5 linked regions of the Homo sapiens genome follow. The protein of the gene in region 5 purifies or fractionates together with the protein of the main gene of each other region. This does not show direct contact. Each region holds a gene or a part of one and is shown on either strand. Other genes may lie near its edges.

Region 1 (4,774 bases), on a different chromosome or scaffold from region 5:
TTTTGAAATAGAGTCTTGCTCTCTTGCCCATGCTGGAGTGCAGTGGCACAATCTCAGTTCACTGCAACCTCCACCACGTGGGTTCAAGCGATTGTCTTGCCTGAGTCTCCTGAGTAGCTTGGACTACAGGCGTGCAACGCCTGGCTAATTTTTATATTTTTAGTAGAGACGGGGTTTCGCCGTGTTGACTAGGCTGGTCTCGAACACCAGACCTCAAGTGATCCACCTGCCTCAGCCTCCCAAAGTGTTGGGATTACAGATGTGAGCCACCGCACCTGGCCCAGACCTTTTTTAACACAGACATAGACACACAGGTGACTGTCTATAAAAGTACACAATTGAGATCATATTGGGGTAGAAGCTAAATTTTTTTTTTTTTTTGAGATGGAGTCTCGCTCTGTCACCCAGGCTGGAGTGCAGTGGCGTGATCTTGGCTCGCTGCAAGCTCCGCCTCCCGGGTTTATGCCATTCTCCTGCCTCAGCCTCCTGAGTAGCTGGGACTACAGGCGCCCGCCACCCCTCCCGGCTAATTTTTTTGTATTTTTATTAGAGATGAGGTTTCACCGTGTTAGCCAGTATGGTCTTGATCTCCTGACCGCATGATCCGCCCACCTCGGCCTCCCAAAGTGCTGGGATGATAGGCATGAGCTATGGCGCCCAGTGAAGCTAAATTATTTTTATAGATGTTCATTGTTTTAAAAGAAACTGGCCTGGCGCGGTAACTCACACCTGTCATCCCAACACTTTGGGAGGCCAAGGCGGGTGGATCATCTGAGATCAGGAGACCAGCCTGGCCAACATGGTGAAACCCCATCTCTACTAAAAATACAAAAATTAGCTGGGTGTGGTGGTAGGCGCCTATAATCCCAGGTACTTCAGAGGTCGAGGCAGGAGAATCGCTTGAACCTGGGAGGCAGAGGTTGCAGTGAGCTGAGATCTTGCCATTGCACTCCAGCCTGGACGACAAGGGTGAAACTGTCTCGAAAAACTAAAAAGAAACTAAAACTAGTAGGTAAAATACTAGTAGATAAAATAAGAAAAATAAGGAGCCCTTGTAATCCCCCCATCCATTAATATCATTAAGAGATAATTAAATATTTAATATGTAAATTAAAATGTATGTAATACATACTTGATTATAGATAAATGTTATAATTTGCATGCATGTTGCTTTGAATCTGCTTTTTGACCTGGTTTTTTTTTTTTTTTTGTGTGTGTGTGTGTGTGACAGGGTCTCGCTCTGTGGCCCAGGCTGGAGTTCAGTGGTACGATCTCGGCTCAGTGCAGTCTCTGCCTCCCGGGTTCAAGCAATTCTCCTGCCTCAGACTCCCTCAGCCACTTAGCTGGGATTACAGGCGCCTGCCACCACTCCGGCTAAATTTTTGTATTTTTAATAGAGATGGGGTTTTGTCACGTTGGCCAGGCTGGTCTCAAACTCTTGACCTCGTGATCCACCCGCCTTGGCCTCCCAAAGTGCTGGGATTACAGGCATGAGCCATTGCCCCTAGCCTGAGCTGTTTCTTTTTAATTGATAGAAATATTTGTACATATTCATGGGATGGGTACATGTGGTATTTTGTTACAGGCATACACTGTAATGATCAAGTTGGGGTGTCTGTCACCTCCATATTTATCTTTTTTTTTTTTTTTTTTTTTTTGAGACATAGTCTCTGTCTCTTGCCCAGGCTGGAGTGCAGTGGCGCGATCTCAGCTCGCTGCAAGCTCTGCCTCCCGGGTTGATGCCATTCTCCTGCCTCAGCCTCCTGATAGCTGGGATTACAGGTACATGCCAGCATGCCCAGCTAATTTTTGTATTTTTACTAGAGACAGGGTTTCACCATGTTGGCCAGGCTGGTCTCGAACTCCTGACCTGGTGATCCGCCCACCTGGGCCTCCCAAAGTACTGGGATTACAGGCGTGAGCCACCGCTCATTGCATATTTCTAACCATTAACCGTGCTCTTTACCCTCCTGATGCTTCCCAGCCTCTGATATCAATCGCTCTATTCTCTACCTCCATTAGATCCACTTTTCTAGCTCCCACATAAGAGTAAAAACGTGATATTTGTCTTTCTCTGCCTGTCTTACTTGACTTCACATAATGACCTCCATTTCCTTCCACGTTGCTGCAAATGACATGATTTCATTTTTTTACGTGGCCAAATAGTACTCCAGGCCGGATGCGGTGGCTCACGCCTGTAATCTCAGCACTTTGGAAGGCCAAGGCGGGCGGATCACGAGGTCAGGAGATCGAGACCATCCTAGCTAACACGGTGAAACCCTGTCTCTACTAAAAATACAAAAAAAAAAAAAATTAGCTGGGTGTGGTTGCGGGCGCCTGTAGACCCACCTACTTGGGAGGCTGAGGCAGGAGAATGGCGTGAACCTGGGAGGTGGAGCTTGCAGTGAGCCGAGATCGTGCCACTGCACTCCAGTCTGGGTGACAGAGCGAGACTCTGTCTCAAAAAAAAAAAAAAAAAGTACTCCATTGTGTATCTATATTACATTTTCTTTATCCATTCAACTGTTGATGGACACTTAGATTGATTCCATATCTTTGCTATTGAGAACAGTGCTGCAGTAAACATGGGGTGCAGGCATCCCTGTGGTATATGGATTTCCTTTCCTTTGGATAAATCTCAGTAGTGGGATTGCTGGATTGTATAGTAGTTGACCTAAATTTTTTGAAATTGAAGGTCTCTGATATCAGATGTATATTTATTTATTTAAAAATTTCTTTATTTTTTGAGACAGAGTTCACTATTGTTGGCTAGGCTGGAGTGCAATGGCACGATTTTAGGTCACTGCAACCTTCGCCTCCTGGGTTCAAGCAATTCTCCTGCCTCAGCCTCCTTAGTAGCTGGGATTACAAGCATGTGCCACCATGCTCGGCTAATTTTTTGTATTTTTAGTAGAGGCGGGGTTTCGCCATGTTAGCCCAGGCTGGTCTCGCGCTCCTGACCTCAAGTGATCTGCGTGCCGCAGCCTCCCAAAGTGCTGGGATTACAAGCGTGAGCCACTGCACCCTGCCAGATGTATACTTTATTTTTTTGATATAGAGTCTCACTCTGTTGCCCAGGCTGGAGTGCAGTGGTGCAATCACTGGTCACTGCAGCCTTGACCTCCCAGGCTCAGGTGGTCCTCCCATCTCAGCCTCCCAGGTAGCTGGGACTACAGGTACGTGTTACCACACCTGCCTAATTTTTCTATTTTTTATAGAGACAGGGTTTTGCCATGTTGATCTCCAACTCCTGGGCTCAAGTGATCTTCCCACCTTGGCCTCCCAAAGTGCTAGGATTACAAGCATGAGCCACTGGCCTGGCAGATGTATACTTTAATGGAAACCTAAGGTTTACTTGTCCCCAGGAAGATTCAGAATTGTTAAGGATGGCCGGACGCAGTGGCTCACACCTGTAATCCCAGCACTTTGGGAAGCCGAGGTGGGCAGATCACTTGATGTCAGGAGTTTAAGACCAGCTGGCCAACATGGTAAAATCTAAAGTCTACTGTCTACTAAAAATACAAGAATTAGACCAGGCGCGGTGGCTCACGCCTGTAATCCCAGCACTTTGGGAGGCCAAGGCAGGTGGATCACGAGGTCAAGAGATCGAGACTAGCCTAACCAACATGGTGAAACCCCGTCTCTACGAAAAATACAAAAAATTAGCCGGGCGTAGTGGCGGGTGCCTATAGTCCCAGCTACTCGGGAGGCTGAGGCAGGAGAATTGCTTGAAGCTCAGAGGTGGAGGTTGCAGTGAGTCGAGATCTTGCCACTGCACTCCAGCCTGGGCGACAGAGCGAGACTCCGTCTCAAAAAAAAAAAAAAAAAGTTAAGGACTATTCTGGTTCCAGTTTAGGATCTAACATACAGGAAGAGTTTAGTTCTGTGTAGATGGTGCAGACAAGGTTGTTAAGGGCACCAGGCTTATGGATTGCTTCTCTTCCAAGCACTTATTTTGTTTAAATTCTGGAAACATTCAATGTAAACATTAGTTATATCAGACAAAAGGATTAGGCATCCACTTAAGTCTATTATGTAGCTCATAAAAGTGGTAATTATAAAGGCTCCAAATTTACTTAGATTAGCACTTCTAAGTTATTATGATAGAGTGATGTACTAAATATACATCACACTTACAACCAGGTAGAATTGAAAGAAGTTTTGAAGAAATATTAAAAGTGCTTTTAGTTTTGTGTTGGGAGATATGAGTGTGTAGGAGAGGGCGTATGGTGGGAAGGGTTTTATTTGAGGTATTGGCTATATTTCCTGTTGTGTTACTGATTTTGATTATTTTGAAAAGTAGTGCCTTTGCACATAGCATAGAGTTCAAACAGTACAGAAGGGAATCTAGTAAAAAAAATCATTACAGTTGGTAGAAATAAAAAAATTTAAGTAAACCCTAAAGATAAAATATTTACATACTTTGACTTCATTAAGGTTCATATAAAATATACAAAATACATCTAAAGAAACTTGGATTTTCTAGTAAATTAAAGAACTAGATAGAACATTGAATTTGCATCTGCAGATGCTTTATGAAGATGGGCTATTTTTACTGATATTTGGAGAAATGCATATTAGAAAATGCCTGTAATTCCTGCTTCTTGGAGAAGGAAAAAAAGAGATGGGATCATTGGCCAGGCACGGTGACTCACACCTGTAATCCCAGCACTTTGGGAGGCCGACGCCGGCGACTCACAAGGTCAGGAGTTCGAGACCAGCCTGGCTAACATGGTGAAACCCTGTCCCTGCTAAAAGTACAAAAAATTAGCCG
Region 2 (4,724 bases), on a different chromosome or scaffold from region 5:
GAACTGCTGGGCCTATGCGAGGGGTCCTAGTTCTCGAGGTAGGTGGAGGTCAGAGAAAAGGCAAGATTTCCTTCTTCCTTTGCCCTAATATGGATGGACAGAAGTGATGAGTGGGAAGAGACTGAGAGAGGAGGAGATGGGGCAAGGGGGAAGAAGGGGGAGACAGGGAAAGAGGAAGACAGGGAAGGAGCACAAAGAGAGACAGAGAAGAAAAGACTGGGAAGGACAGGGGATGAGGAGGAGGCAGAGGGAAGGGAGGAGGAGGTGGGGTGGAGGAAGAGCAGGGAGAGAGGGGGTACAGGGAGAAGAGAGGGAGGGTCAGTGATAGATGGGATACACAGAGAGAGACAGAGAGCCAGACAGTGGGAGAGGGAGACAGGAAAGCAGAAGGAAAGGCGAGGGACGGAGGGAAAGAGAGCCCTGGGACTCAGGTGCCAAGCACAAAGTCAGGGACAGGATCCCTCCTGGTAGGCAGTGGACAGGCAGGCAGAGACAGGGCCTGAGCCAGGGGTCCTGGCTGCCCGGTAATTGCCACTGTTAGGTGGCCTGTAGTCAAGTCAGCCACTTTTGTGAAAGACAGGGCTCTGGCTGCTCTGGTCTGGAGGTCGGCTCCCCAGGGACAACTGTCAGGGTCAGTGTGGGAAAGGACACCCAGGCATTGTCTCCTGCCATGCAGAGGTGAGGTAAGGGAGGCGTCATCATCCCCAATATACAGGTGGGAAAGGCCCGAAGCTTAGAACAATGTCACTGCCAACACAGGGCCTACCTGGGATTTGACCAGAGTCCGCCTGGCTCCAGGCTCTGCCACCCACAGGAAGAAGAAACTACACTGACAGATGTGAGACAGTGTTTCCCCTTCAGTCTTTGAACAGGCTTTGTGTTTTCTAAATGACACTGGATAAAAGGGAATTCATTCAAGAGCTCCAAGGCTTCCCTTTCCGCCCGGCTTCTGTTGCCCTGGCCTGAGCAGCGAGCAGCTGGGAGGGGACTGAACTGCCCCTAACCAGGGTTGTGGCTGGTGGGGTTGGGACTAGGGCTGGGCATGTGGCTGGGATTGGGCCCATCTCCCAAGTGTGGTGGGTTTCAGGGGTCCGTGGGGAAAGGGTCACCTGCAGATCCTTGTACAAAGCCCAGCACAAGGCCCAGAATGGGCCTGGAGCTGAGGGTGGGCCCCTGGCCTGCGTGGATGAGGAAGGCCTCAGAGGCTGGGGAGAGCTTTCCGGTTGGGTACAGGATGGGTGGGCTGGTTCAGGAAGAGCAGCCACCTGTGCCCATTGGTCCCTTATTCCCCAGGTGTGGTGCATCCAGGACTTACACAGGCAGCCCGTGGACCCCAAGCGTCATGGACAGCTGTGTGCAGGCAACTGCTACCTTGTGCTCTACACATACCAGAGGCTGGGCCGTGTCCAGTACATCCTGTACCTATGGCAGGTGTGCCAGCCTGAGGGAGGCAGCACTCACCTTAAAGCCCAAGGGCTGGGCTCTGGGAGTGAAATGTGAGAGCTGGGCCAGGCCCTCACTCACTGCCCCCACCTGCAGGGCCACCAGGCCACTGCGGATGAGATTGAGGCCCTGAACAGCAACGCTGAGGAACTAGATGTCATGTATGGTGGCGTCCTAGTACAGGAGCATGTGACCATGGGCAGCGAGCCCCCCCACTTCCTCGCCATCTTCCAGGGCCAGCTGGTGATCTTCCAGGTAGGTCTCACCTTGCCACTCTGGCCACAGCCTGCCCAGTTCTGCATGGGCCATGGCCCCCGCACACACTTCTAAGCACCTTCTCTTTGGGCCTGGGGCCTGCTTATCATCCCCTAGTTTCCCAGAGCTTGTCCAAGGCCCAGGAGCTCCAAGGTTGGCCCCCTGCCTGAGTTTCCCTCCCCAGTCCCAGAGCCAGATGAGGAATTTGAGTTGAAAGGGAGCCAGGGGCTTGCCTGGGGCTGCACACTAGCAAACCTGGTCCCCACTTTCCACCTCCAAGGCCTGAGCACCCATGCCCCAACCACTCAGAGATGGGGGGAAAGGTCCATTTAAAAAGGGTCTGTCCCTGTCCCAGACTGATGGGATTCCTGCACTCCACACTTAGAGGGTCCTGTACTCCTCATGTGAAATCACCAGTGAGGGCCTTGATGGCTTCAAGCAAGGGTCCCTGAGCTCTGAGGCAATATGTCCCACACTGGGACAGGAAGGCGCCCCTGGGAGCCCTTGCCCAGCCTGAGGCCTTGCTCTCCTATAGGAGAGAGCTGGGCACCATGGAAAGGGGCAGTCAGCATCCACCACAAGGCTTTTCCAAGTGCAAGGCACTGACAGCCACAACACCAGGACCATGGAGGTGCCAGCCCGTGCCTCATCCCTCAACTCCAGTGACATCTTCTTGCTGGTCACAGCCAGCGTCTGCTACCTCTGGTTTGGGAAGGTACCCACAGCACTGACCACTTGATTCATGCCCAGATGTAGTGGTGCCAGGCTGGGGGTGGGTCCTCTCCACAGGGCATGCAGACTTTGAGTCCAGCCTCAGATAGGCCGATGGGGGGAATGGGGAGGGGAAGAAGCCACAGGGTCCCCTCTAGAACTTGGGGAAAGTTACAAAGTGACAGGTGGACCTGAGAGTCCGCAGGTCAGAGCCAGGCCCAGGCCGCCTCCCCTCCTTACTGCCTGGAGCACAGGGCATGTCCCTTCCCAGGTCTCTTGGGAAAAGGGGAGGCCTATGCCAGTTTGCTGGAGTTTTCTCTAATATTCAGCATAAACTATGACTGACCCTCTAAGCCTGGGGGCCTCCTATCCCATGCTCTGGACCCTGCGAGGGTCCCAGACCCTGCGATCCAGATCAACTGGGGACACAGGCCTGTAGGGTGAGGAAGATGCCTTGTTCACTGGTGTCCTGCTGTCAGCTTAGGCCTCCTGTGACTTGGGCCCAGCCCCACCCCATACACCCTGTGAACGGGACGTGGGGCCGGAGGTGAAGGCCCCTCCTCATGCAGGGCCTGAGCCATCTCTTTGCCTGCTAGGGCTGTAATGGTGATCAGCGTGAGATGGCACGGGTGGTGGTCACTGTCATTTCCAGGAAGAATGAGGAAACGGTGCTGGAGGGTCAGGAGCCTCCCCACTTCTGGGAGGCCCTGGGAGGCCGGGCCCCCTACCCCAGCAACAAGAGGTAACAGGGTTGGGAGGAGAGTGTTCTTACCCAGAGGAGGAATTGAGGCCCAGAGAGGAGGGTGGGTGACTGGGATTCACACAGAGAGCTGGCAAGACGAGACTAGAACCAAGGACTCTCAGTTTCCCACTCACAGAGGCTCCCACAAGTACAGCCCACGCTTCGCTCCCAGGCCTGGGTAACTTGCGTCTCTCAGATGCTGGGGAGAGTGGGGGCAGTGGCGACCTCTGCTGGCAGCATCCCCTCCCTGCATTGTCCTGGTCCTGGGCCAGGGGACAAAGCACCCTTCCCCACCCTACAGTCCTCAGGGATCACGGTGCCCAGTGTGTGTGTATACAGTGTCATATGATGTGTGGGTATACAGTGTGTGTGGATGTGCAAGAACAGGTGTATTCAGGGTGTTGTGTGTGGTGTGTAAGTGGACAGGGTGTGTGTAGGAGGTAGGAGTGAGGCCTCAAGGGGAGGAGGGAGCTGAGTCCTGGTCGCTCTTGGTCTGCCTGTGGGGCTTGGTTTATGTGCTGCACTCCCCACAATTCTCCTGAGCTCAGTACTCCCGTCTCCTTCTCCCAGCCTGGCTTGCCTCCTTCCACTTTGGGCCGGAGACCTACTCTCTGCCAGGGGTGGGCTGAGGAGCTCCTCCCATCCCAGGGAGGGCGAGACTCCAGCTCAGGCCCTCCCCTACCCCTGCAGCCCTCTCCTAGGGAAATTCATGGGGCACCTTGCGTCACAGCTGGGTGGGGCGAGAGCTTTCTCCATGAGCAGAGAGGGACCCTGTACCCAGAGCAGAGCGGAGTGCTCGGGGAGAAACCACGGGGCTCAGAGGAGGGCCCAGGGCTCCCACTCCTGAGAAGTGGCTTCCCAGGCCCTGGGGTGGGGCACTTGTGCCATGGGCTGGGGTGCCCCTCTGGGTGGCTCACAGCCTTGCTGTCCGTGCTGGCCAGGCTCCCTGAGGAGGTCCCCAGCTTCCAGCCACGACTGTTTGAGTGCTCCAGCCACATGGGCTGCCTGGTCCTCGCAGAAGTGGGGTTCTTCAGCCAGGAGGACCTGGACAAGTATGACATCATGTTACTGGACACCTGGCAGGAGGTAAGGTGGCCATCCCTGCCTGGTGGGGCTGTGAACGGGGGTGTGTTTCTGTTTGTGTAACTGGGTGTGTGTGTATCTAGCCATCTGCCTCTGTACACAGGGCTGTGGGTGAGTCTGACCCTGTCACTGAGCAATTGCATTGCGGTGCATATGAGACCATGGATGAGTGTGCATCACCAGGTGGCAGCAGTGAGACTCCGGGAGATTAGGAGTGTGTTGGAACTCAGGGGTAACTGAGACCATGTTTGCAGTTGTGTGTGGCCCTGTGTGCCTTATGATACTATGTGTGGCTCCAGCGACAGTGCCTGCGGCCGAGCATGTGTCGGTGCTGCATGAGTGACTGTGATTGGAATGCCCAATCGCATCATTCATGTGTGTGGCTTGGTGTGAGTGTTTGCCTTCGTGCACCTGTGTGTGACACTTTGTCAGTGACTGTGAGGTCACGTGATGCTAGAACTGGCCAGACCAGTGGCAACTGGTGAAAATG
Region 3 (4,284 bases), on a different chromosome or scaffold from region 5:
CAAGAGTTCAAGACCAGCTTGGCCAGCATGGGGAAACCCTTTCTCTACTAAAAATATGAAAAATAGCTGGACGTTCTGGCGAGCGCCTGCAATCCCAGCTATTCGGGAGGCTGAGGCAGGAGAATCACTTGAACCCGGGAGGCAGAAGTTGCAGTGAGCTGAGATCGTGCTATCATTGCACTCCAGCCTGGGGTATAAGAGCAAAACTCCATCTCAAAAAAAAAAAAAAAGAAAAAAAAGAAACACTATAACTAAATGACAGTGAAATGTAGATGTATGGTAGATCACTTTTTTTTTTTTTTTAAGACAAGGTCTTGCTCTGTCATCTAGGCTGGAGTGTAGTGGTACAATCATGGCCTATCTTGACCTTGACCCCCCCGGGCTCAAGTGATCCTCCCACTTCAGTCACCCAAGGAGGTAGGACTGCAGGTGTGGGCCACCATGCCTGGCTAATTTTTAAAAAAATTTTTTAGAGATGGGATCCCACGATGTTGCCCAGGCTCGTCTTGAACTCCTGGGCTCAAGTGATCACCTCACCTCGGCCTCCCAGTGTGTTGGGATTACAGGTGTGAGCCACTGCATCCGGCCTGATTGCCTATTTTCTATATTTTTGGGGTATCCAGGCTCTAATTACATTTTTATGGTTAATGTGTATATTTTCTCTCTTTTTTTTTTTTTTCGGACAGAGTGTGAGACTCACTGCAACCTCTGCCTCCTGGGTTCAAGTGATTCTCCTGCCTCAGCCTCCTGAGTAGCTGGGATTACAGGTGTGCGCCACCATGCCTGGCTAATTTTTTGTATCTTTAGTAGAGACAGGGTTTCACCATGTTGGCGAGGCTAGTCTCAAACTCCTGACCTCGTGATCCACCCACCTCAGCCTCCCAAAGTGCTCGGATTACAGACGTGATTACAAAAGCCACCCAAAATGCTGGGATTACAGCCTCCCAAAGTGCTGGGATTACAGACGTGATTACAAAAGCCACCCAAAATGCTGGGATTACAGCCTCCCAAAGTGCTGGGATTATAGGCCATGCCTGGCATATTTTCTCTTTTTTACTAACTTCTTAGTTTAATATTTCTGGTTCTCACTTAACTTTTTGGGATCTTGGTTTCTTCAGCTGTGAAAAGAGTAAGTTGGACCAATTCAGTGATTTCTAACTATTTTGAGTTATGGACATCTTTGAGAACTGGAACACCTTTCCCCATAAATACGCACATATACATGGTTTTTATTTTCATAGGGGTCACAAATTCCCCGATTAAGAACTCTTGGGATGAACAATCTCTAAGGCCTCTTCCAGCTTAAAATTTCATGACTCAGATCTAGTTACTTATTAGTGCCCATTTATGTATATTATTTATAAGATAATATTTTATATTATTCGTAGATAATGTAGTATGTTGAACATCATGCAGTATAGATGTGGGTAATCAAAAATTCCCTGAATTGCTAATTTTTCAATCCAGTTCTTGTCATGACTTTTGGTTTTGTAGCTCAGCCCTATTCCCTTTCTTTGTTTCTATATGACAGGGTTTCTCAACGTCCAAACTGTTGATACTTTCAACCAGATAATTCTTTGTTGTGGCAAGCTATAAGTCTTGAACAAGTCAAGATTCTTGGTTGTAAATAGGGGAAAGAAATTCTGCTTGTAAGCTAACAAAATTGATAAGCTCAAAGAATAGGCAATAACCAGGGGAGGTTAAGGCAGCCAGTAAGATAGCCAAGTCACTCTGCAGACTGTATCTACTTAGAATCCTGCAGGCAGCAGGGACTGTAGACACAAACTACCTTTACTGCCTCCAGAACTAATTCTGATCAGTTTCTGGCTTGTTTTTGTCACTGAGTCTAGATTCACAGTCCTGGACTGGAGTACTTAATTGGCTGAGCTTAAGTCTTAAGTCCTACGTCCATGCTTTAGTTTCCAGGGAGCTGGGAAATATATCAATATTTTTCAGTAATTTGAACAGTTCTTCAAAATCCTTTTTTTAAACAGGAATGACTTACTGATGATAAATCATGTAATGTTGTATTTATCAATAGCTTTACTATTTTAGTAAATCCTTACTATTTTTAATGATTTTTTTTCCTTTTAGTATTTAGCATTTACGTGTGGCTTAATCAGAGGTGGCTTATCAAACTTGGGAATAAAAAGTATTGTAACAGCTGAAGTGTCTTCAATGCCTGCTTGTAAGTTGAATTCGCCTTTCTTACAAATGTTTTAGTAATTTGTTTTCAGGTCTGTTTTTTTTTTTAATTTAACTGAGAGGAAATTTAAAATGCTGAAACTTTCATTTTAGTTTTATCAATGTAACACTTTAGTGTAGTAATATGTAGCATACTACATTCATTTTCAGTAATTTTTGAATAATGGACTAAAATCCAAATTTATAAGACAATTTAAGGGATGATTTTTAACTTTTCTAAAGTTATTCAAACTGTAACTTTTTTAAAGATATTCTTCTGAATATCTCCTGCAGTGTTTTAAGATAGCAAATTTCCCTAGAACATTGAAAATGCTATTTTTTTTTTTTTTTTTTTTTTTTGAGACGGAGTCTCGCTCTGTTGCCCAGGCTGGAGTGCAGTGGCACAATCTCGGCTCACTGCAAGCTCCACCTCCCGGGTTCACGCCATTCTCCTGCCTCAACCTCCCGAGTAGCTGGGACTACAGTTGCCTGCCACCACGCCCAGCTAATTTTTTGTATTTTTAGTAGAGATGGGTTTCACCGTGTTAGCCAGGATGGTCTCCATCTCCTGACCTTGTGATCCGTCTGCCTCGGCCTCCCAAAGTGCTGGGATTACAGGCATGAACCACCGCGCCCGGCCCGAAAATGCTATTTTTAAACAATTGTTTAGGATATGTCTATTATATCAAGCTAAGTAAAACCAAATATTCTTTTATCACTAAATGTCTCCCTAAAGATCTTTTCACCAGAGCTACCAACCAAGAAAAAATGGACTTGAGCTTTATTGTATTTCTTTTCAATTTACAATGATCATTAGCCATGAAATACTGTACCCAAATGTAGGATTCATAAAGAGAAACAAAAGTGCTTACTCAACAAACCATATAATCATCCCATAAAAATAGAATTGACTGGCCGGGTGTGGTGCCTCACACCTGTAAGCTCAGCACTTTGGGAGGCCGAGGTGGGCGTATCATGAGGTCAGGAGTTTGAGACCAGCCTGGCCAATAAGGTGAAACCCTGTCTCTACTAAAAATACAAAAATTAGCTGGGCGTGGTGACAGACGCCTGTAGTCCCAGCTACTCAGGAGGCTGAGGCAGGAGAATCACTTGAACCCAGGAGGTGGAGGTTGCAGTGAGCAGAGATCGTGCCACTGCACTCCAGCCTGGGCAACAGAGCAAGACTCCATCTCAAAAAAAAAGAAAAAATAGAATTGACTTTATTGAATATTATGAAGAATGCGAAAAAGTTTTTGACATAGCAGATTTCTTGACTGAAACTATTTCCTATATGGAACAGAAAATTGATGTTTAGACTTGTTTTCTTTGTATCTAAAATCAAAGAATTATTTGTATTTTTTTTTTTAGGCAAATTTCAGGTGATGATACAGAAGCTGTAGAACATACTGAAATGCAAGGCTTCAACAGTGTAAAGAGATAAATTATTCATGTAAAAGTATTTCAAGTAGTGATGATTTAATTACATTGTTCGATGTTTGTACAGGAGTAAGCATGTATTTTTATCAATTTAACACAGATCAAAGGAGATGAAGGGACATTCTGCCATGACATACACTTAACCAAAACTATTCAAAATGAAAACCGGATTTCAAATAACCAGACACCAAGATGCAGGGCCCTTATTTTAAACCTTTTTATTTGGTTAGAGTGATATGTATTTAGCCATAGATGGAGAAACAAAGCTCAGGGTTTGTTGAATTAGCATGAGAGAAAATTATGTACCAACAGAATTATTTGTGAGAAGAATGAACAAATTTTGATAAAGTATGAATTTGTTTTATTTTAAAAAGCAAACATACTAAATTTTTTTTATTTTATTGCTTATAATTTATTAAGAATGTTTACACCTGTATAAGGATTTCATATATACATTGTATGTGTGTATATATAAATACATATATGACTGCCTAAATTGTTTATAAATTTAATTTTTCTTTAATAGGTTTCATTCCTTCAGAGCTCCATTAATGTAATCAAAATGAAATATAGATTAGTTTAAATGTGAATTCAGTGACTCTAGGGCCAAAGAATATTAGGTATGTTTGGAAAGAATTTTTGTATTTATTCCTGTTACAGTTT
Region 4 (5,329 bases), on a different chromosome or scaffold from region 5:
CTCCTGCTCGCGCTTCAGCCGCTGCTCGCGCCTCTCCTGCTCGTGCTTCTGCTCGTGCCTCTCCTCCTCCTGCTCGCGCCTCAGCTGCTGCTCGCGCCTCAGCTGCTGCTCGCGCCTCAGCTGCTGCTCGCGCCTCAGCTGCTGCTCGCGCCTCAGCTGCTGCTCGCGCCTCAGCTGCTGCTCGCGCCTCAGCTGCTGCTCGCGCCTCAGCTGCTGCTCGCGCCTCAGCTGCTGCTCGCGCCTCTCCTCCTCCTGCTCGCGCCTCAGCTGCTGCTCGCGCCTCTCCTCCTCCTGCTCGCGCCTCAGCTGCTGCTCGCGCCTCTCCTCCTGCTCGCGCCTCAGCTGCTGCTCGCGCCTCTCCTCCTGCTGCTCGCGCCTCTCCTGCTGCTCGCGCCTCTCCTCCTGCTGCTCGCGCCTCTCCTCCTCCTGCTTGCGCCTTAGTTGCTGCTCGCGCCTCAGCCTTTGCTGCTGCTGCTCTTCCTCCTGGCGCTCCCTCCTCAGCTCTTGCCGCTCCAGCTTCCGTAGCTGCTCTTCTTCCTCCTGGAGCTCTCTTTGCCGCTGCGGCTCCTCTTCCTGCAACTTCTCTTCTTCCTTCCGGAGCACTGTCTCGCGCTTCCTCCACTCTTTCTCTTCTTCCTCCTGGAACACTCTGTCTTGCCGCTCTCGCCTTTGCTGCTGTTTCTCCTCGCGGCCCTTCCTCCTCAGCTCCAGCAGCTCCCGCCTTCGCAGTTGCTCTTCGTCTGGAAACTCCTCAGTTTCGTGACCTTTGCAACTCTGCAGCTGCTCTTCCTCTGCACGGCGCTCTTCCCGTTCTTGCCATTCTTGCCTTTGCCGCCACAGCTCCTCGTCGCGGCGCTGCCTGTCGCGCTGTTCAAGTCGCTCTTGTTTCTCACTTTGCTCCTCTCCCTCAGCTAGCTCCCTCTCCTGTTCCTGCCTCTTCTGCCTGCGTCGTTGCCCAGGTTCTTCTTCCAGTTGTCTGTCCCGGGGCTCGAATCTCCTTTGGTCTTCTTCTTGCCTGCGATCTTGTAACAGGCTCTCCTTTCCGTCACACCGGGCTCGCTTCTCCTCATCCAGTCCCGTGGCCTGGCCGAGAGCATAGTAACAAGCTTGAGCCACTTTGAAAATAAATAGGAGGAATTCGTTGAAATCGACACGCCCATTACTGTCAAGATCCAGAAGTTCCAGGATCAGATCTACCGTCTTAGGGTCATGTGGTCTCTATAAAAATGGTGAAAACAAAAATTTTACAATGCACTATTTACAGGTGGTAAAATTATATTCACACATGATATATTTTATGCTATGCTGACATTCAAGAGACATTCAGAGCAATTAGAAAAATGTCCAGTGTGTATCAAGTTTTGTCCCCATGTAAAATGTGAACCCTCACTTTAAAGCATATATTCGTTTGAAATTTTTACATCTCGTAATTTAGTGCTGATCAAACCTAAGGAAGCAGGAAGAGAGACACAAAGTAGAATAGCAGGTAAGCCTACGCACCTTAGAGGCAGAGCCTGAGGTGAAGATTCAAAACAGCATCGTGAACTTGTGTGTAAAATTAACAAAGCTACTCAACATCAAGAAAGAATAACACAAGTTCGCTTTAATTGAGAAAGAATGAACTCATCCTTGAGAGAGATACAATAGAAATTTATGAGGATTTGCAGTAGCCATTTCTGTCTGAAGCAGCCAGTATTCTTGATTTGGTTTCTATTCCATATTAGAAAACAGAACAAAACATTTACGGGTAGCACCATTTTAATAGAGATCAGGCTGATCTCAGTTTTGAAATTTGGAAACAAATTTAAGTTCCTCCAAGTCTAGTGTGATTTGACATCTTTTGTGGTAATGTCCCATGAAGAGCTCATTCACATGGCCATGCCATCAAGTACATGAAATACTTTATTATTCAGACTACAATGTCAAGTAAGTACCTTTTGACTCAGAAATGAATGGGGGATGTAGTGTAGACCTGTTGTGGTGTAAAATGAATATAAAACCACCATTCCTTGCTCTGGTCTCCTCTGAGAATAAATCTCATAGCCTCAAGTCAATAGATCTCATTTTCTTGTTAGTTCTTACCCGAAGCACAGCTCCAAATTCCCTTTCAAGGAGGTTCTTCAGGTCTTTCTTAGTTAATGCTGCTCCATCACAATCATGAGAGACATACTGATTGAAAATTTCAGTGATGTCACAGATGCTTCTCAGAAGTGGAGACATTTTTTTTTCTTTCCTTCAAGTTCAAGTAAACCTAGAACAATAAAATAAGATCCAGAATCAAAATCCCGTTTCTGCTTTTGGGAAGGCTTCATTCACACTATTTCAGGCAGATCCCTAAATAATTTGAATTTATAGCGGTAATTTCAACCTGGACTTTCAGAGCACTTTAATATTTGAATATTGTATCAGAAAGAGAAAGAGCGATCCTGAGAAATTCCAAGCCAGGGAATCATCTTCAGACTATCCTGTTGTCAGCTTTTGATTGTCCACCCAATGTGGATTATCTATGCCCTTTTCTTCTGTCTTTCTTCCAGCTCTCCACCGTATTTCAGAGTAGAAAATTAAGAGAAGAGTGCAGAAATTAAAATTTTATATATGTCTACACACCTTCCTTTAAAGTTGAGCGAAGAGGACAGGTAAAAGCCAAAAGGTGAAGGAAGACTTGAGAGTATCTTAAAGTGGATAGAGGCCATGTCAGCAAAACAGTTGGTAGAAAATAGAACAATGAAAAGGGAATATGAATGATTCCTCAACATTACAGTCCATAAAGGATTTAGGAACTCTTATAGAATATAATTTGTAAGTCAGCAATTCTAAGATTAAATAGTACTTCTTCCTAGTCAAAAGATGGCATTGTAACATTCAGATACACAAATGCAGAAAACAGAGACTGTATATTACCTGCCTCAACTCAGATATAGTAAGATATTCGGATATTGAAGTATTGAAAGCTTCTGAGAGGTCCTTTCTAAACCAAACGGAATCCAGAAAACTGTGAATGATATTGGTTTTGTTAAACCCAAATGCATCATTGGAATCTTGGCTTTTTATAAAACATTAGCCAGCAGTAGATCAATGTTATAAGAATACATGGAATGGCTTTGCTGGTGGGATAAGTGTAGTCGTTCATCTAGCTGACTTCTTTATGTACTTCTCAACTCCAGTACCTTAAATGCTGTGACTGTATGAAGATGGCCCATATTAGGTAGAACCAATGTAAAAGAGAACAGAAGGCTGGCAAACTTTTGAGATAGCAGTTTTTAGGAAGATGAACCCTATCAGAGCCACACATGATCATCCTTGATGTGCAGAAGTATAGAGTTCAGAGCCCAAGGAGAAGGGTCATGCTTCAGTTCAAGTGATGGCTCCAACCATAAGAAGATGGGATAGAGTTAGTGATAGTTTATTTATCCCTGCAAAATACTGATACCTTCTGGCACATGGAACCTCCCCCCATATCCCAACATCTGAAATAGCTATAAAAATGGAGAATCATAAAGAAGACCACGATCCCACAGAATGGGACTTACCCACTTCACCAGAGGAAGAAGTCGACAGTGCTTGCTGACACCACAGGCAAGTGTACTGGGTAACTGGGAGCTGGGCCTTTTATAGGGGTTTTAATTGTGCCCTGGAAAGCAACTTGGGAAGGAGACACCCACTCTGTGGGATGGCCTGATTCATTCCTAACCAAGCCCAGCTCCACCTCTGTCTCCACAAATGGCTTGTTTATCTCACTATTTGCTCACGTAGCTATTTGGCACGAGGTTCACAGACCTTGCCTCCTGACAGTCAGGGTACCAGCCCCACCTAACATGGGAGGGTAGAATATTTGGCAGAATCTCCAATTTTCTTAAATTGTTAAAAGTAAATTAAATAATAAAACAAAGGTATTAAATGTTCACAATCTTAATTGATTATTACTTCATTACAAAGGAGTAAACTCTAAGCCATTTGCTTTATAAAAGATACAATCTCTAGTTTGGGATTAAGCAGAAACTTTGAAATAAAGTGATGAAAACCAATTAATTTCTCCATGGGATGTGACAGTCCATGGTGAGCTGCTCATAAGCCCTGCCAGAAGCAGTTGCTTCAATTCTAGGGCAATGAGAGAGCTGTAAAGAATTGGTTAGTTTCTTCTCTAAAAATGCAGGTGGGAAAAATTTTTACATTTGTCTCCCGGGTCTTATGATGGTTTTCCTACAGATTGGGGACTGCCTCCTCAGTAAAGTTTGGAAGGGTACCTTGGAAATATATTTTTATTAAACCGTTCATAAGAAAACTTGAAATCTGTGAAATTTCATTCTTAGAGACATTAAACCTAAATGAAGTTTGTTCATTAGTTTTCTCATTAGCATATTGATGCCCCTGGGGAAAAAGAGCTGGTGTAATGTATTATTGTAGATATAATCATCCTGCTCAGCCTAAGTTACTAATGATTATGACACCTAAACACTTGAGTCTGCTTCTCCTGGAAGTACATTGAGGTAATTGGTCATTCTAGCCCATTATATCCATCAGGGCTTTCTCAATCTGGTTGATCATTTGCAAATTTCAGTGCTGTTTTATTGTAAGGAATTGGATTTTATCCATGGTTGTCAGTGACTTCCTTCCTTACATTTCAGACTATATGAAACTTTGGTTCATAATTTATGAAGACTATTAAATGATTCAATGGCTTCTCTGCACTTTTGTCTCCTCCTTTGTCCAACAGAGGCAAGTGTTGGTTTTCTGAATTTTGAGGCAACTGAACGTCCTTCAATGGCATGAGTGAAAATTTGGAATCTAAATCTTGATGGCTATTTCTTTATGTGCAGATTGGTCTAAATGATAATGGAGTTGAACTCTATTTGCCCCCTCACTTGCTGCCATCCTAGATGTGGGGTACAGAGGAAGGTAGAAGTGACAGGGAATGGGAAGACAATTATAAGCAATGCTAATTTCTGCCTCTTAAGGACTTCAACACTGAAGTCTACAATTTAGTGGTTTTCCTAGGACTGTCAGAACTGTCACTATTTCTTGGGCTCAGTTAACAAACTTGATGTGGCAATTCCTTGGTGAAGGGTGAAGACTTCTCATTTTTCCCCTTCTTTTTAGGGTTTTATGCAGCTCTCTTACTCTTTGGATTCTGAGATAGGACCATCATAAGCACTGACCACACTGCAATCATGTGATCATGGAAGCTCACTCTCTCACAGAGGGCACTAGCCTTTTGTATGAGTGTTCTTCAAGGAATAACCTGGGCAAGGACTGCCTTATGTCTGCTTTTGTTTGTATCCTCCTGTGTGTGATCTATTGGGAAACCTCAGTTCAGGTGATGGGATGCATT
Region 5 (3,500 bases):
CTGTGTCCTGAGCGATGTTAGAATTACCCTTCAGTGTGAGTGCAGGCCTGGCCCTGGCCCCAGCTGTTGCCTGAAAGTGACTAGGGGAGTGTTTTTCATGGAATCAGACTGGAATTCACTGTTCTTTCTTTGTTAGGAGAGATTCAAAATCTGAAAAATTCCAACTTTTACCCCCTAGGATCTTTACCTTATATAGTAAATCTCTGCCCCTCGACCTGGCCTGTCGTATCTGGGACGTGTTCTGTCGCGATGGGGAAGAGTTCCTGTTCCGCACGGCCCTGGGCATCCTGAAGCTGTTCGAGGACATCCTGACCAAGATGGACTTCATTCACATGGCCCAGTTCCTGACCCGGCTGCCCGAGGACCTGCCCGCCGAGGAGCTGTTTGCCTCCATCGCCACGATCCAGATGCAGAGCCGAAACAAGAAGTGGGCTCAGGTCAGCGGGCTTTGTGTTCTTGGCTTCCCACAGCGTAGCCGGCAAGTGGCGCGACTCAGGAAGGCCCCTACGTAAAGTGCTGTCTGAGGACGTAGCCCCTTTGATGGAGTCCCTGGGCTGGAACTGAGGGGGGCCGGGTGGAGACGTGGCTGTGCCACAGGGCGTCTCGGCGGGTCGCCTCCTCTTTGGGTTTCTGTCAGCTGGATGGGGTGTGGATAATGAAAGCCTTCCCACCTCCTCTGCAGTGGCATTGGGAGGGTCAGCACTTGTATCATTATAGTGCTCTTTACATGTTAGAAAGTACTTTGTAAGCCACGTACCCCCCTTTTTAAAAAAAATAATGCCAGAGACAGAAAGCAAAGTGGACCCACTTACTGAGCCCCGTGGCCATGCCCTGTGGCAGGCTTTTGTGTGTGTCCTTGAGAAGGAAGTGGGATTACCCCCCTCTTACAACAAAGGGAGGCCCAGAGAGGAGGGCGCGGGTCCCTCCTGGGTCTTCCCATGCGCTGCTGTGCCCTCTCTGGGCTGAGTGCCCCAAACAGTGGCGCGGATAGTCCGTATCCCTTGGTTTCCCTCCAGGCATCCCTCCTAGGTCCTGTCCCCAGTGGGATTGACCTGCATTTCCTGTTCCGAGTCTTTGTCATACTAAAAAGGAAAAAAAAACCAGTTTGGGTTCTTGATCCTGCATACACTCTGCATTGGTTTGAAGTCCTTGTTGATTGACGTCTATGAAGACTTTTCCTTTTCTGTACGTGCTACACCATGCCTGGGGGATTTCTTTGTTTTGAGAGAGGGTCTCGCTCTGTCATCCAGGCTGGAGTGCAGCCCCCGCCTCCCAGGCTCAGGTGACCATCCCACCTCAGCCCCCCGAAATGTCTGTTCTTGATTTAACTTTTTTTTTTTTTAATGGAAGATTTAAAATATTTACAAAACTAGAACAGCATAAAATAATGCACCCCCACACGCCTGCTCTGCAGTGTCAGTGACTGTGGAAGCGCAGCGGCTGTTGGAGCTGCCTCCCACCTCTCCCCTTCCCACCATATTGAAGCGAGTCCCAGGCACCGTGTCACCTGTTGGTGTTAGCGATCTCTGACTCATATGGGCTCTTTTAACGTAACTGCAATACCGTTACCACTCAGCTACTAACTCCTTCCTATCATCAGATATCCAGTTTTCAAATTCAGATGTCATAAATGGCTTTATAGTTGGTTGGAATCAAGATCTAAATAAAGTCCATGCCTTGTGATTGGTTGAAAGCTCTGTTAAGCCTCTGTAATATCTATGCCACGCCACTTCTCACTTTTTAGCCCTCTCTTGCTTGCCTTTATTTGTCAAAGAAAACAGGTCATTTAGGCTGGGCACAGTGGCTCACACCTGTAATCCCAGCACTTTGGGAGGCCAAGGTTGGGGGATCACTAGAGCCTAGGAGTTTGAGACCAGCCTGGGCAACATAGTGAGACCCCGTCTCTACAAAAAATACAAAAATTAGCTGGGCATGGTGACGTATATCTGTAGTTCCAGCTGCTAGGGAGGCTGAGATGGGAGGACCATTTGAGCCTGGGAGGTCAAGGCTGCACTGGGCTGTGATTGCGGCACTGTGCTTCAGCCTAGGCAACAGAGGAAGACCCTGTCTTAAAAAAACAAACAAACAAACAAAAAAAACAGGTTGGCCAGGTGCAGTGGCTCACGCCTGTAATCTCAACACTTTGAGAGGCTGAGGCAGGTGGATCACGAGGTCAGGAGTTCAAGACAAGCCTGGCCAAGATGGTGAAAACCCATCTCTACTAAAAATACAAAAATTAGCCGGGCACGTTGGCAGGCTCCTGCAATCCCAGCTACTCGGGAGGCTGAGGTAGGAGAATTGCTAGAACCTGGGTGGCAGAGGTTGCAGTGAGCCAAGATCATGCCACTGCACTCCAGCCTGGGCAATAGAGTGAGACTCCATCTCAAAAAAACCCCAAAAAAGCAGGTCATTTGTCCTGTAACATTTCCCACTGGGGGAGAGTTTTATGGCATATACATATGTCACCCCCCCCACACACATCACACACCTATACGTACACAATCACCCCACACACACAATCACCTCCACGCACACACATTGCACATCCATTCACCCCCCATCTCACACACCCACACAATCACCCCCCACACACCTACACATACACAGTCACCCCACACATAGACACGCACAGATCACCCCCACGCACACTCATTGCACACCCACAGTCACACCCCTACACCTCACACCCAGTCACCCCACACACACATCACATACACAATCACCACACACCACAATCACCCGACACGCACATCACACACCCACCCACGCATACAATTACCCTACACAGTCACATCCACACACAATCACCCCACACACATCACACACCCCCACAATCACCCCACACAATCACACACCCACACAAAATCACCCCCCACACATCACACAACCACACACAATCACCCCCCACACATCACACACCCACATACACAATCACCCCACACACATCACACATCCATACACAATCACCCCCTACACATATCACACACCCTTAAATACACAGTCACCCCACACAGGCATACCCACACACACACAGATCACCCCCATGCACACACATTGCACACCCAGTCACCCACAATCACACACATACACAATCACCCCACACAGTTACCCACACGCACAGATCACCCCCCACACACACATTGCCCACCCCCCCACACATAGATCACCACTTACACATCACCCCACACACACCCACACATACATGCACACATCACACACCTACACATTGCATACCCACACACACACCTACAGATCACCCCCCACATACACCTATCACAGCCCCACACACACGTCACCCCACACATCACACCCACACGTACACATTACACACCCACACACCTCACATGCACATACACACCCACGTACAGGTGCAGGTCAGTCCCTGCGCATCCACATACTGCACACCCACATACACAGGAAAGGATTAAACCCAGATCAGCCATTTTGATCCTTGCATATTTTAGGGACTAGGTAAAAACTATTGGTTAAAACTGGGTCAG

Evidence for each region.
Region 1: the proteins of TBC1D14 (region 5) and RAB11FIP3 purify together in Homo sapiens (pull-down; one study listed by IntAct). This does not show direct contact.
Region 2: the proteins of TBC1D14 (region 5) and VILL purify together in Homo sapiens (affinity purification with mass spectrometry; one large-scale study listed by BioGRID and IntAct). This does not show direct contact.
Region 3: the proteins of TBC1D14 (region 5) and TRAPPC6B purify together in Homo sapiens (affinity purification with mass spectrometry; 2 studies listed by BioGRID and IntAct, with this or other methods). This does not show direct contact.
Region 4: the proteins of TBC1D14 (region 5) and TCHH purify together in Homo sapiens (affinity purification with mass spectrometry; one large-scale study listed by BioGRID and IntAct). This does not show direct contact.

What each region holds. Positions count from the first base shown.
Region 1 is NC_000016.10:431,394-436,167, forward strand, and holds part of RAB11FIP3 (rab11 family-interacting protein 3), read left to right. Parts: intron 1-4,774. UniProt on the Homo sapiens protein: Downstream effector molecule for Rab11 GTPase which is involved in endocytic trafficking, cytokinesis and intracellular ciliogenesis by participating in membrane delivery. Recruited by Rab11 to endosomes where it links Rab11 to dynein motor complex.
Region 2 is NC_000003.12:38,000,163-38,004,886, forward strand, and holds part of VILL (villin-like protein), read left to right. Parts: intron 1-1,293; coding exon 1,294-1,431; intron 1,432-1,539; coding exon 1,540-1,698; intron 1,699-2,233; coding exon 2,234-2,413; intron 2,414-3,005; coding exon 3,006-3,151; intron 3,152-4,092; coding exon 4,093-4,237; intron 4,238-4,724. UniProt on the Homo sapiens protein: Possible tumor suppressor.
Region 3 is NC_000014.9:39,149,650-39,153,933, reverse strand, and holds part of TRAPPC6B (trafficking protein particle complex subunit 6B), read left to right. Parts: intron 1-2,094; coding exon 2,095-2,188; intron 2,189-3,552; coding exon 3,553-3,584; 3' UTR 3,585-4,284. UniProt on the Homo sapiens protein: Component of a transport protein particle (TRAPP) complex that may function in specific stages of inter-organelle traffic.
Region 4 is NC_000001.11:152,111,861-152,117,189, forward strand, and holds the start of TCHH (trichohyalin), read right to left. Parts: upstream 3,585-5,329; 5' UTR 3,531-3,584; intron 2,252-3,530; 5' UTR 2,221-2,251; coding exon 2,083-2,220; intron 1,219-2,082; coding exon 1-1,218. UniProt on the Homo sapiens protein: Intermediate filament-associated protein that associates in regular arrays with keratin intermediate filaments (KIF) of the inner root sheath cells of the hair follicle and the granular layer of the epidermis.
Region 5 is NC_000004.12:7,024,826-7,028,325, forward strand, and holds part of TBC1D14 (TBC1 domain family member 14), read left to right. Parts: intron 1-178; coding exon 179-437; intron 438-3,500. UniProt on the Homo sapiens protein: Plays a role in the regulation of starvation-induced autophagosome formation.